Regions from separate parts of the Homo sapiens genome. Here region 2 is linked to region 1. The links come from fine-mapping of genetic effects on gene expression. A gene starts in region 1. The other region holds a variant in brackets. All regions are shown on one strand. Distances are from middle to middle.

Region 1 (5,362 bases):
CCCCACGGCCCTCCCATTGAAGGGCCCATAACTAAACACACTCCTCCTCTTATAATGAGCCTCACTTTGCTTTTCAGCCTCGGAGGGAAATTTCCCTGTAGGGTCCTTAACATCTAACCTATGCAACCACACTATCATTGTTAAACACCCCTCTGACCATCAAACTAACCAGGCTAACTACCAAGTATCACCTGAAGCGAACGGAGCATTTCTGCAGCTGGCTCGTTTGACAGCCTTTCCCTCAGCCAATGCCTCCAGCCTAACCTGTGCTGCTCCTAGTGCCCACAATTTTCCTTGGCTCAATATCAATAGTGCAGCATCCGACCGCATTAAATCTGTAAAAAATAACTCTTCCTATACCTCTAGTATAGTAGGTGTCTCCCAGGCCTCCTCCTTGTCCACCTGGAGTAATGAACCACAGGAAAGAACAAACACCTCATCTTTAATTCACTTATTTTCTGTCCATATCTCTGCTTGTATTTACAATAAAGGCTTGTTCTTTTTGTGTGGTCTCAACACATATTTCTTTGTCTCCCCATCAACCAGACCAGAACCTGTACCCTAGTTTATCTTTCTCCCTCCATTGGACTAGTTCCTCCTAATCAATCTTTACCCGTTCCATCCATCCAATATGTTAGGAAGAGGAGAGCCATCCACGTCATTCCTTTAATGGCTGCCTTAGGTATAACCTCCGGGCTTGGGTTGGGAGCAGGCTGATTCGCCACCTGCTTAACATACTTGAAATCTCTTTCAACAGAACTGCAGAGTTCATTAGAGCATATGGCCCAAAGCCTTATAAGAGTCCAAGGCCAACTAGACTCCTTGGCTGGAGTAGACTCCTTGGCTGGAGTAGTCCTCCAAAATAGACAGGAATTAGATGTTATAACAACTGAAAGAGGGGACCTCTGCCTCTCATTCGGTAAAAAATGTTGCTTCTATCTCAATCAGTTGGGCCTAGTAAGAGACGCTGCTAAAAAACTTAAAGAAAGGGCTAAAAAGCTAAGAGAATAACAAGACAACCAAATAAATTACTGGTTTAAAAACAAAGTCCTAATATGGGTCATCCCATTCCTGGGCTCTCTCCTAAAAATATGCCTAGGAATAATGTTCTTACCCTGCTTAATTAACCTTTTTCTAAGTTTTTTTTATTTTTTTGAGACGGAGTCTTGCTCAGTCGCCCAGGCTGGAGTGCAGTGGCGAGATCTCGGCTCACTGCAAGCTCCGCCTCCTGGGTTCACACCATTCTCCTGCCTCAGCCTCCCAAGTAGCTGGGACTACAGGCACCCGCCACCATGCCTGGCTATTTTTTTTTTTTTTTTGTATTTTTAGTAGAGACGGGGTTTCACCATGTTAGCCAGGATGGTCTCGATCTCCTGACCTCGTGACCCACCCGCCTTGGCCTCCCAAAGTGCTGGGATTACACGCGTGAGCCACCGCGCCTGGCCACCTTTTTCAAAGATTTTTAACCAGCAGGATCATGGCCATCTCACAGACAATTACCCAAAAACATCTACAGACAGCGTTACTCCTACAATCAATCTGAAACCAAAGAACTCTCTGCTCACTCCCCCAGCAGGAAGTAGCCAGAAAAAATGCGCTGCCCCTTGTCCTTTTCATAACTATAGAGACTGGATTGATAGAGCAGGAGCATTGCCATCTTGGACAAACACCACCTTTCTAAGTTCCCCTTGATTAAAAAACCACCTAAATCCTACCCCAAAACATCAGCCTAACGGCTAATGTCAGCATAACCAGAAATATTCCAACCCTAAGATAAACCTCTCTTCAACCAGAAACATGCTAACCCTGAAATAACCTCTCCTCCAATAGCCTCCCCTCCGACCAGAGACATTCCAACCCTGCAATAAACGTTCCCCCACTTCCAAAACCCTTAAATATCCTTAGTCTGTAAGAGAGAATGCTTAGTCTGTAAGAGAGAGCGCTCCTGATCGAAATTGGCCAGAATCCCCTCTCAGGTTTATTCTCTGAAATAAACCTTTTAATGTTGAGCCGCTTTTTGTATTTATTTCCTCTTTCTTTAACGGTTACAAGCATTGTTACTTGAGTGTTTCTGCTGTAATGGAGGAGGCAGCATGAATATCTCAAACGGTTGCTAGTGAGAAGCCACGCAGATGAGAGGCATGAAGCCTTGTTGGGCTCCCTCCATGTCCTACAGCCAGAGAGCGTCAGAAATACATCTGCCCCAGAATGAACTGGGCTGAAAACTCTTTGCATGGAGGGAGACCACATAACCTGGGGAACTTGGGTAAACGATGTTGGAACGGAGGTGTAAGATTTGGGTTTGTGTTAGTTGATTTGGGGAAACATTTATGGAAACGGGCCTTTGCTCCGGATTGGATGTCAGGAAGAGGAGGATTCCATGATTGGATATCTTGATGAAGCTTATCTAGACGGCAGGAGGACGAGACAAAGGCTAAACATGTAATGGTAAAGAAGCAGCAATCACTCTTATTGGCCAAGACGAGGGGAATGTGGTCACTTTTGTGGCTTGGACAGTGTTCCTGTTTTGTCTGTGTTCACACTTGATTACACAGTGGTCTGTTTTTTTCTCTTGATCTGTATCACGGCCTGATGTTGGTGTTTTATGAAATTGTTCACATTCAAAGAGAACACCCAGGCCTAGCTGTTTGTGCCAGACCAACCCCAAGTCCTGGCTGCAGAACCAGGCCAGCTCCCCGATGTCAGTGGCCGCCTTTCTCTTTACAGGCATGGAGGGGGACACCATTAAGGAGGAGCCCCTCTTCTCCGCTCCCCACAGACACCAGTGGGTGCAGACAAGTCAGGGAATGCCTCCTTTCCCTCCGGCATCTTTTGAGGTTTCCGTCCTGACGCCCAGGGCCGCTCCATCCAAGCCTCGGTTTCTCAGTCTCTAAAACAGGCCAGAAACCAGGCACGCCGTGGTGAAAGGACGAGCCGAAGAGATGGCAAGAGCTCCAGAAAGCCTTCCCAGGCATCAGGGGCTGCCCTTGAGCTCAGACGTTTCTCTCTGGACAGGGCTTCTTGGACAGGAACTCAACGAAACTTGACAGAAATCGGACACCCCCAGCCAAGGAAAAGCAGGAGGGGCCCGGGGTTCGCCAAGGCGGGAAACACCGCGGGGCCCAGACGGCGCCGTCCGCCCGGCTCGCAGTCGGGGCGCGGGAGGGGCCCACGCGCATGCGCACCGCCCCGCCCCCAGCCGCCCCGCCCAGCCCGCGCGCAGCCCTCTGGGGCGGCCGGGCCACGCCGCGCGCCGATTGGTGGCGTCCGGGACTCTCCCTGCAGGTGACTGACGGCGCCGGCCGCCCCTGCCCGTCGCCCGCCCGCTGCTGCCGCCCGCCCGGGGTGTGGAGCCCGGCCGCTGCTCGCGGGCTGAGTGTCTGTCGCTGCTGCCGCCTCCACCCAGCCTCCGCCATGGACCTCTTCGGGGACCTGCCGGAGCCCGAGCGCTCGCCGCGCCCGGCTGCCGGTAAGCGGCGTTGCCGCCGGGCCGGCCAGGGAAGGGAGAGCAGGCGGGATGGGGGCGGCCTGAGGCCCGGGGCGGCTGAGGCGGCGCCCGCGCTGGGAGGCGGCGGGCGGCGCGGGCTGCACGGGGCCTGCTCCTGCCTGGCCAGGCCCCGTCCGGCCCACTGGCGGCCCTGTCGGAGGCCCGGTCGCTCGCGGAGCTCGGAGAGGCCGCTCCGCCATTTTCGCTACGCAGGAAGGAAAGGGCCGAGCCGTCGTGGCCACGGCCCCTCTGCGTGGCGGTGAAAGGCGCCGGCGCGACCGCGTGGGCCGACCCGAGGGACCGGCTCTGAACGCCCGGCGGCACCGCGGGCCCCCGCGCCCCGATTCCACCCGCGGCCTGGGCTGCCTTGCGCGTCGCCCGCCCGCGGCTTCCGGGCCGCACTTCACCCGCGGGCTGTGGAACGGCCGCGTTCCGGGCCGGTGCAAGTTCAGGGGCTTGGCGTTTTTATTTGCACTGGAGATTGAATTAATCACCATCTTAATCCTTCGTGTTTTTGAAGCCTGGAAGACAGGATGCCTCCTCTGTCATCCTGTGATTTTGTGATAATTAACAGTAGTTTTTTTTTTTTTTTTCTGGTCCACGGGAAGTTCCCCCTCTCCTTGAAGTTAAGGGGTCCGCTCATCTCCTAAGCGCTGGCCCCTGCCAGTGGGAGTCCCTGTGGGCTGTGGTTTGAGCTCAGCATCCTAGCAGCTTGAAACAGGGCCTGTGTTAATCCCTGCGTCCTGTGGGTTACAGTCTCCGGGTTTCATCTGTCAAAACGCGTGAATATTTCATATGCAAGACTTCCAGCTTGATGTTGTAGTTTAGGGCCTTATTACAAAATTTAACTTGGGGGCAGAAAACCTGGAAAACTTAAGACGTTCAGATTTCCAGGCCCACCTCAGCCCCAGTAAATCCGAATCCCTGAGAGTGGGGTTTCCGAATCTGTTACTAAATCCCCAGGCCAACCCAGCGGGGGCTGGAGACCAGTGGTTTGGGAGCTGCTGTTGTAGGGTAGACGGAGGTGAGTAAGGCCCAGCCTTCGCTTTCTAAGAGCTGCTTTCTGAAGGGTACTAATTACGGTAATTAAAACTGGCAAAAGTTAATGACTGTGGGAAATGCTGAGGACTCTTGAGGAGGGATTGTCGGGCACCGAGAGACTGGGGAAGGAGGCAGTGTTTGAATTGAGCTTCCAAGGATGTTCAGGCTTGTGATTTGCAGTAATTCTGGGCGAGAAAACATTTTATTTTATTTTACTTTTTGAGACGGAGTCTCACTCTTGTCGCCCAGGCTGGAGTGCAATGGTGAGATCTGAGCTCACTGCAACCTCCGGGTTCAAACAATTCTCCTGCCTAGGCCTCCCTACTAGCTGAGATTACAGGCGCCGACCACCACACCCGGCTAATTTTTATATTTTTAGTAGAGACGGGGTTTCACCATGTTGGGTAGGGTGGTCTTGAACTCCTGACCTCAGGTGATCCGCCCGCCTCGGCCTCCCAAATTGCTGGGATTACAGGTGTGAGCCACCGTGCCCTGCCCCCACTGACCGTTCTGATGGTACAGAGCATCTCAGTAACTGGTCCTGGAGTCTTTGAACTTGACTCAGCCATTCATTTTCAAAATAACCACGGTTTTAGCTGTGGGTAAAAATTGGATTTGTGTAGCAGTCTTTTTTCTCTTGTCAATGGAGTATAATTTCTATCTGAATATATTTGGGACAGCATTTGGATTCACCAGTGTGCGTGTAAACCTATGAGTCTTAAAATCTCCATTGCTTTTTACCTGCAATTAATTAGGTTCTGCTCAGGAGCAGGCTCCCTTGACTGACAAAAAACCTGGCAACTCAGAATCTCATAGGTTGGCACCTTAGCAGCC
Region 2 (5,362 bases), 41 kb after region 1:
GGACTTGAAGCCTGGCTGCGCCCAGACCAAAGTGAGAACTTGGCATGTCCTGGACCCTCTCCCAGGCCTGGAGTCTGAGGGTGCTGCACCCGACCCAGTGATCCTGAGCATCTAACAGCACCCTTCTGCACCCAGCCACCCGTGGCCATGCCCAGGCGGTGCCCCTCGATGCCCAAGCCTGCCGCACTCACCTGCAGGTACAGGACGCCATTCACAGAGATGGTGAAGAGCTCACTGCTGCTCTCCAGGCCCATGATGGCCTCCAGGGAGCTGTACCCAAAACAGAGGGAGGGTCAGCCTGCCCCATGAGACCCCACCAACTTCACCTACGACACACAATCCTGCCAGCAGCCAACACATGCCCAGCAAAGTGCCTGACCCTGGCCAGGTCTTCCAGTGGAGGTGGTGTCTGAACCGAGTCCCCAAGAGGAGGAAGGACACAGGGCCAGAGGCATGCTTGCTGTATTGGGAAAGGCAAGGCGAGGGCCCAGCAAGAGGCAGCAAAGCCCTGGCTCTGATGGGAAACAGGACACTGGCTGATGCAGCCGGAAGTGGGGATGTGGTGGCAGGTGATGCTAAGTTAGTTCAGGCCAACACACTCTGGGGGTTCAAAGGCAGACTAAGAAGTTTTGGACTTGATCCATTCATTCAAGTCTGCTCCAGCTATCCTACCCGCAGGGTATCTCCGCTGTACCTGGGCTCCCTTCTGGGTGTGGGGAGACAGGGAGCTCACAGTCACTGCACTCGTGGGCCAGATGGTGCAGGAGCAAGGGATGCGATCATGGGGAAGAAAGTTCCCGGGTGAGGAGTGGGAGGGCGACTGAGGAGGGGGCCTCCAGAAAGCTGTCTGGAGAGGCCTCTTGAAGTAACACTGGTGCTTCGAGCCCCAAGATGAAAGTCCCTGAGGTGGGAAGGAGTTGGGAGGCTAGGAGGAGCCCGGCCTCCTAGGACCTGGGGAGGAGGTGAAGGTCTGGGCAGGGAGTGGCCTGGAAAGGTTTTTTTTTGTTGTTGTTGTTTGTTTTTTTGAGACGGAGTCTCGCTCTGTTGCCCAGGCTGGAGTGCAGTGGCGCTATCTCTGCTCACTGCAAGCTCCGCCTCCCGGGTTCACGCCATTCTCCTGCCTCAGCCTCCCAAGTAGCTGGGATTACAGGCACCCACCACGCCCGGGTAATTTTTTGTATTTTTAGTAGAGACGGGGTTTCACCATGTTAGCCAGGATGGTCTCGATCTCCTGACCTCGTGATCCGCCCGCCTCGGCCTCCCAAAGTGCTGCGATTACAGGCGTGAGCCACCGCGCCCAGCTGGAAAGGTCATTTTTAACAGCTCCCAGTTGCTGTGAAGGGAAGGCCTGATAGGGGCAGAAGTAGACCGGGAGACCTGGAAGAAGGTGTGGGGTCACCTAGGCCACGGTGGGGTGTGAACGGGCGGAAGCCCCGTCCAGTGCCTGTTTAACCACCTCCAGCTTGTGGAGGCCGAGCGAATGCGGGTGTGGGGTCCGGGCCGGGGTACACTCACGCGTTGCGCTGGCACCGGGACTGGATGCAGATGAGCAGGCGCAGGTGGTCCCGGGGGCGCGGCGGCCCCCTCCTCGGCGGCTCCCCGAGCGCTGCGGGGGAGGGTGGGACGTGGTCAAGCGGGCGGGCGGCGGGGTGGGCGACAGAGCGGGCGATCCTCCCACGCCCCGGGCCTCACCCACGTGCAGCGTGGCGGCGAGAGCGTAGAAGCCAGCCACGGGCGCCCTGTACTGGCCGCTGGTCAAGTTCAGGCCCGGGCCGCGGCGGAAGGCACCCTCGGCGTCGGGCTGCGAGGGGCACGGATGGTCACCCCGGCTCCCGCCCGGCCGGACTCACCCGCCCTCCCGCGCGCCGGCACTCACCAGGTAGTAGACGCCAAGCTCGTGCAGCGCGCGCCGCTCCACCAACGCGTCCCGGCGCAGGCGGCAGAGGAAAGCGGCCTCCACGCGCGGCGCCCGCGGCCCCGGGGCCAGGGGCGCGGCCAGCAGTGCCAGCACGTCCCCCACCACGTCGTCGTCGTCCTCCCCGGCGGTGGCCGAGACCGGGGCGAGGCTCGCAGCGACCGGCCCGGCGGGGCCACACGTACAGGGTTCGGGCTCCGCGCGCTCCCGCTGCCGCACCGCACCTGGCACAGAGCGAGCGGTGGCCGCGCGCCAGGGACCCCTCACCCGCCCGCCGCGTGGGTCCAGCCCTGAACGACAGGTGCTAGCGAGACCAGGGGCCTGCCGGGCGCAGGGGTGGGGCGAGGGCGACGTCCCCTCGGCCTGAAGGGCCTCGGAGTCTTTGCGTCCTGACCCTGCAGCGGCTCCCGTTTCCCTCAAGATTTGGGAAGCTCGGGCAGAAGTGCCCCAGCGCCCTTGGCCTCCAGCCTCACCTCTACCCCACCCACATTTTCCAAAGACGCTGGGGGTAAAATAAGCGATTGCAGCTTTACTGGAAGTACAAGGAGGTTCTTCAGCGCAGAAGGTGCTATATTTAAACGAACAGGACATTGAACTAAAAGGAAAAAACGGCTCAATTCTAATGACTAATGTGAGCCGCCGCTCTGCAGGAGGCCTCAGTGTGGACTCCGCGGCTCCACTCAGCCCTGCCTCCTCCAGGGCAGGCTGCCCCAGCCCTGGCCAGTGGTGACTGTGGGTGCCAGGCTGAGCTCCACCTGGTGCTGCCCCATACACTAGCCTCTGCCTTTCGCTGGGCTCTCCTGACTTCCAGGCAGGGCATAGGCGCTGGTCCCTGAGCACCCGCCATACTGAGTGGCCAGGTCCACCTTCCTCTGTGAAGCCTTCTCCTGGCCATGGTTCCCAACCCCCAGCCATCCCCAGCCCTGACCCTTGGCAGACATGGGCCAAGATGGGGCAGAGACTGGACCTGGCCAGCTCTACTGTCCTTGAGTCCAGCCCAGAGCAGGTGCCTCCTTGGGTGCCCGCCGAAGTGTTGAGGTTGGCCCTGTCAGCTCCTCGGGACACCCTCCCAGGCCCTGCTCACAGCGGGGTGTGTGTGTCCCAGCCGGTGCACACCCCTACCTTTCAGCAGCAGCTGGAACTCCTTCAGCAGCGCCTCGGGTGGGATGATGGGGCCTGGGGGGCCCTGGGGACCGGGAGGCCCAGGGGGCCCTGGCAAGCCGAACTGAAAGGGAACCTTGGCAGTGAGGACATGTGAGGAGCAGGCTGGGAGCCACAGCATCCCCTGTGCAAGCTCTTGCCACTAAGAGGCAGGCAACAGAGCTCCCCAGTGGGCTCCAACCTCCAGCCAAGGATC[T/C]ACCTCAGTGAAAGCTTCTCCTGGAGTGAGTACAAGGACTGTGCTGGAGGTGGGGGCCCTCGGGGCGGGGCTTTGGCAGGGAAGGACTCTGCTCTGAGTGGGGAGGCAGAGGGCTGAAGCCCGCTCCTGCGGCCAGGCCTCGTGGAGGGAAGAAGACTCTAGGCTGCTTTTGGGGACTTGCATCTCAGGGTCTGCACTGGGCCCGAGTCCACCATCAGCAGGTCCCCACTAGGCTGGGTTGGGACCCGAACCAGAAGCCAGTGAGCCCCCTGTGGGGAGAAGCTTAGGGCAGGGCCAGGAGGCTGGGCAGAGGTAGAAGGCCAGGCCACGAGGACAGCGCGGCCTGTGCACCTGCCTCATGCACTCCGAGCTGGCCTTCCATCGTGTGTTCAGATCCCAGGCAGGTGATACTGGCCCCCAGGGGACAGAGAAGCCCACACCCCGTATTTTCCATTTTGGGGGCTCCAAGCAGGAGGCAGCACCAGGACCAAGCACCAAGTTTCTGCCCAGGCCAAGACCTAAGGCTGAGTGAGGGTGAGAGGGACCCTGTGCCCCTAGTCCCTGGGAGCCAGGCACTCCTGCAGGCCCCTCCAGTGTGGACAAGGTTCTCACCACAGCCTGGGCTAGCCCAGCCTCCCTGGCCTGGATGCAGAGGGAGGAGAAAAGAGGGAGAGCCTGGCATTTTAGGGGTGTGGGGAAATGGTTGGGACCAGGCCCCTAACTCGGGGCTCCCCCTGGGGCTGCCTGGGTTCTCTCTGTTCTCTGTCCCCAGGCCGAGGCGTGAGGGGTGTGCTATTGGAAATGTTCAGGATGTAGGAGTGGGAGTGGATGAGGAGCGAGGAGGCGGAACCCCCCACGGCCTGGCACTGACGGGATGCCGGCCTCACCTTCAGCTTCTTGGCCTTGCCCCTGCTCCTCTTCTTGCCATTGACACCCTTGTCACTCTGCCTGACGAAGAGCATCCAGGCGTCCCGGGGGTCGACGCTGTGTGCACGCTCAGCGGTGGGCTCCTGGAACACAGCCAGCCCAGCAGGGCGGTTGGCCTCACTGGGCTCCTACCAAGCAGGTGGGACACTTTGCAGGAGGTGACTGTGTGGCCTTCTGTACTCTGGGACCCTGGTCCTTGTCACCTGTGGTGCCCTCAAAGGCAGCTCCCAAAGGGGCCCCAACCCCTCACAGCTTCTCCCCCGGCCCGTGGAGGATGACTCCTAGGGAACGGGCCACACCTCGGCCTGGACTTGGCACTCATGGGAGAGGCAGACCCAAGATGCCTGGAGGGAAAATGGGGTGCAGGGCTTGGATATCGGGGTGAATCCCCGTACTGCTGGGCCTCCTTCCTCCAGAGGAGCTGCAGTGATCACACCGTCCTCCAGTCACCAGGAGGATCCGACCACTGGAGCACCCATAGGTGCTCAGGAAGAAGCAACTGTGATTATCAGGGAGCCCAACTACTAGCCAACCCTCCTCTGTCCATCCTCCCCCAGTGTCAGAAGTTCTAAGGAGGCAAATTCAGCTCTCACAGCTGCCTCGGGTTACAGTCCAGTGGGGGAGAGGACCAGGCGAGCTGTCATGACGCGAGGCCTCTGTGTGAGACTTTCATTTCCTCAGCACTTCTGAGACACTGACACATGGACAGTGATGCTTCCGGAAGTTCCCATTCCTGTCCGCGCTGCATCCTGACTGATGCTGACACTGAGCACAGTTTTGGGAGGGACCTTCCTGGGAGAGGCCTTGGGCTATCTGGGCTCCAGGCAAGGCTGCCAGCTGGGAAGGAAACCGGCCCAAGAGGGCTTAGATGAGGTCATGGGTGCTGACGCTGGGGGCTGACGGAAGGACCCTGGGATTTTAGAGCTGACTGGGCCCTTTTATCAGAGACAAAGCCGGCTGCCAAGTCACTGCCTTTGGTTCCTGGCTGATCTGGGGGGATGCAGGGCCTTCTTTTGGGAGCTGGCTGACCAATGCGCAGGCCAGGGTGTTGTGGTGGGAAGATGGGGGCTGCGGTGCCGAGGAGCCTGTGGTTGGGCGGAGAAAGGGTTCAGGGGCCCAGGGCCCTCAGCGCTGCTCAGTGCTTCCTTGTGCCTTAGAGGGTC

The links.
Region 2: its variant is fine-mapped to the expression of ILKAP in whole blood (INTERVAL, PIP 0.98).

Annotation. Positions count from the first base shown.
Region 1 is chr2:238,201,606-238,206,967 of GRCh38, reverse strand. ILKAP (ILK associated serine/threonine phosphatase) reads left to right here and starts at 3,273. Exons shown (of 12, transcript NM_030768.3): 1 at 3,273-3,469. The coding sequence starts at 3,415. RefSeq lists enhancers at 2,392-3,264, 4,227-4,286 and silencers at 3,077-3,646, 3,767-3,856.
Region 2 is chr2:238,160,514-238,165,875 of GRCh38, reverse strand. ERFE (erythroferrone) reads right to left here. Exons shown (of 8, transcript NM_001291832.2): 2 at 4,160-4,282; 3 at 3,038-3,140; 4 at 1,877-2,139; 5 at 1,693-1,801; 6 at 1,516-1,606; 7 at 192-270. Among named protein-coding and RNA genes, the nearest start is that of ERFE, 4.2 kb to the right of the region's middle. RefSeq lists an enhancer at 2,218-2,718. The variant T/C (reference allele first, on the strand shown) is at 3,273.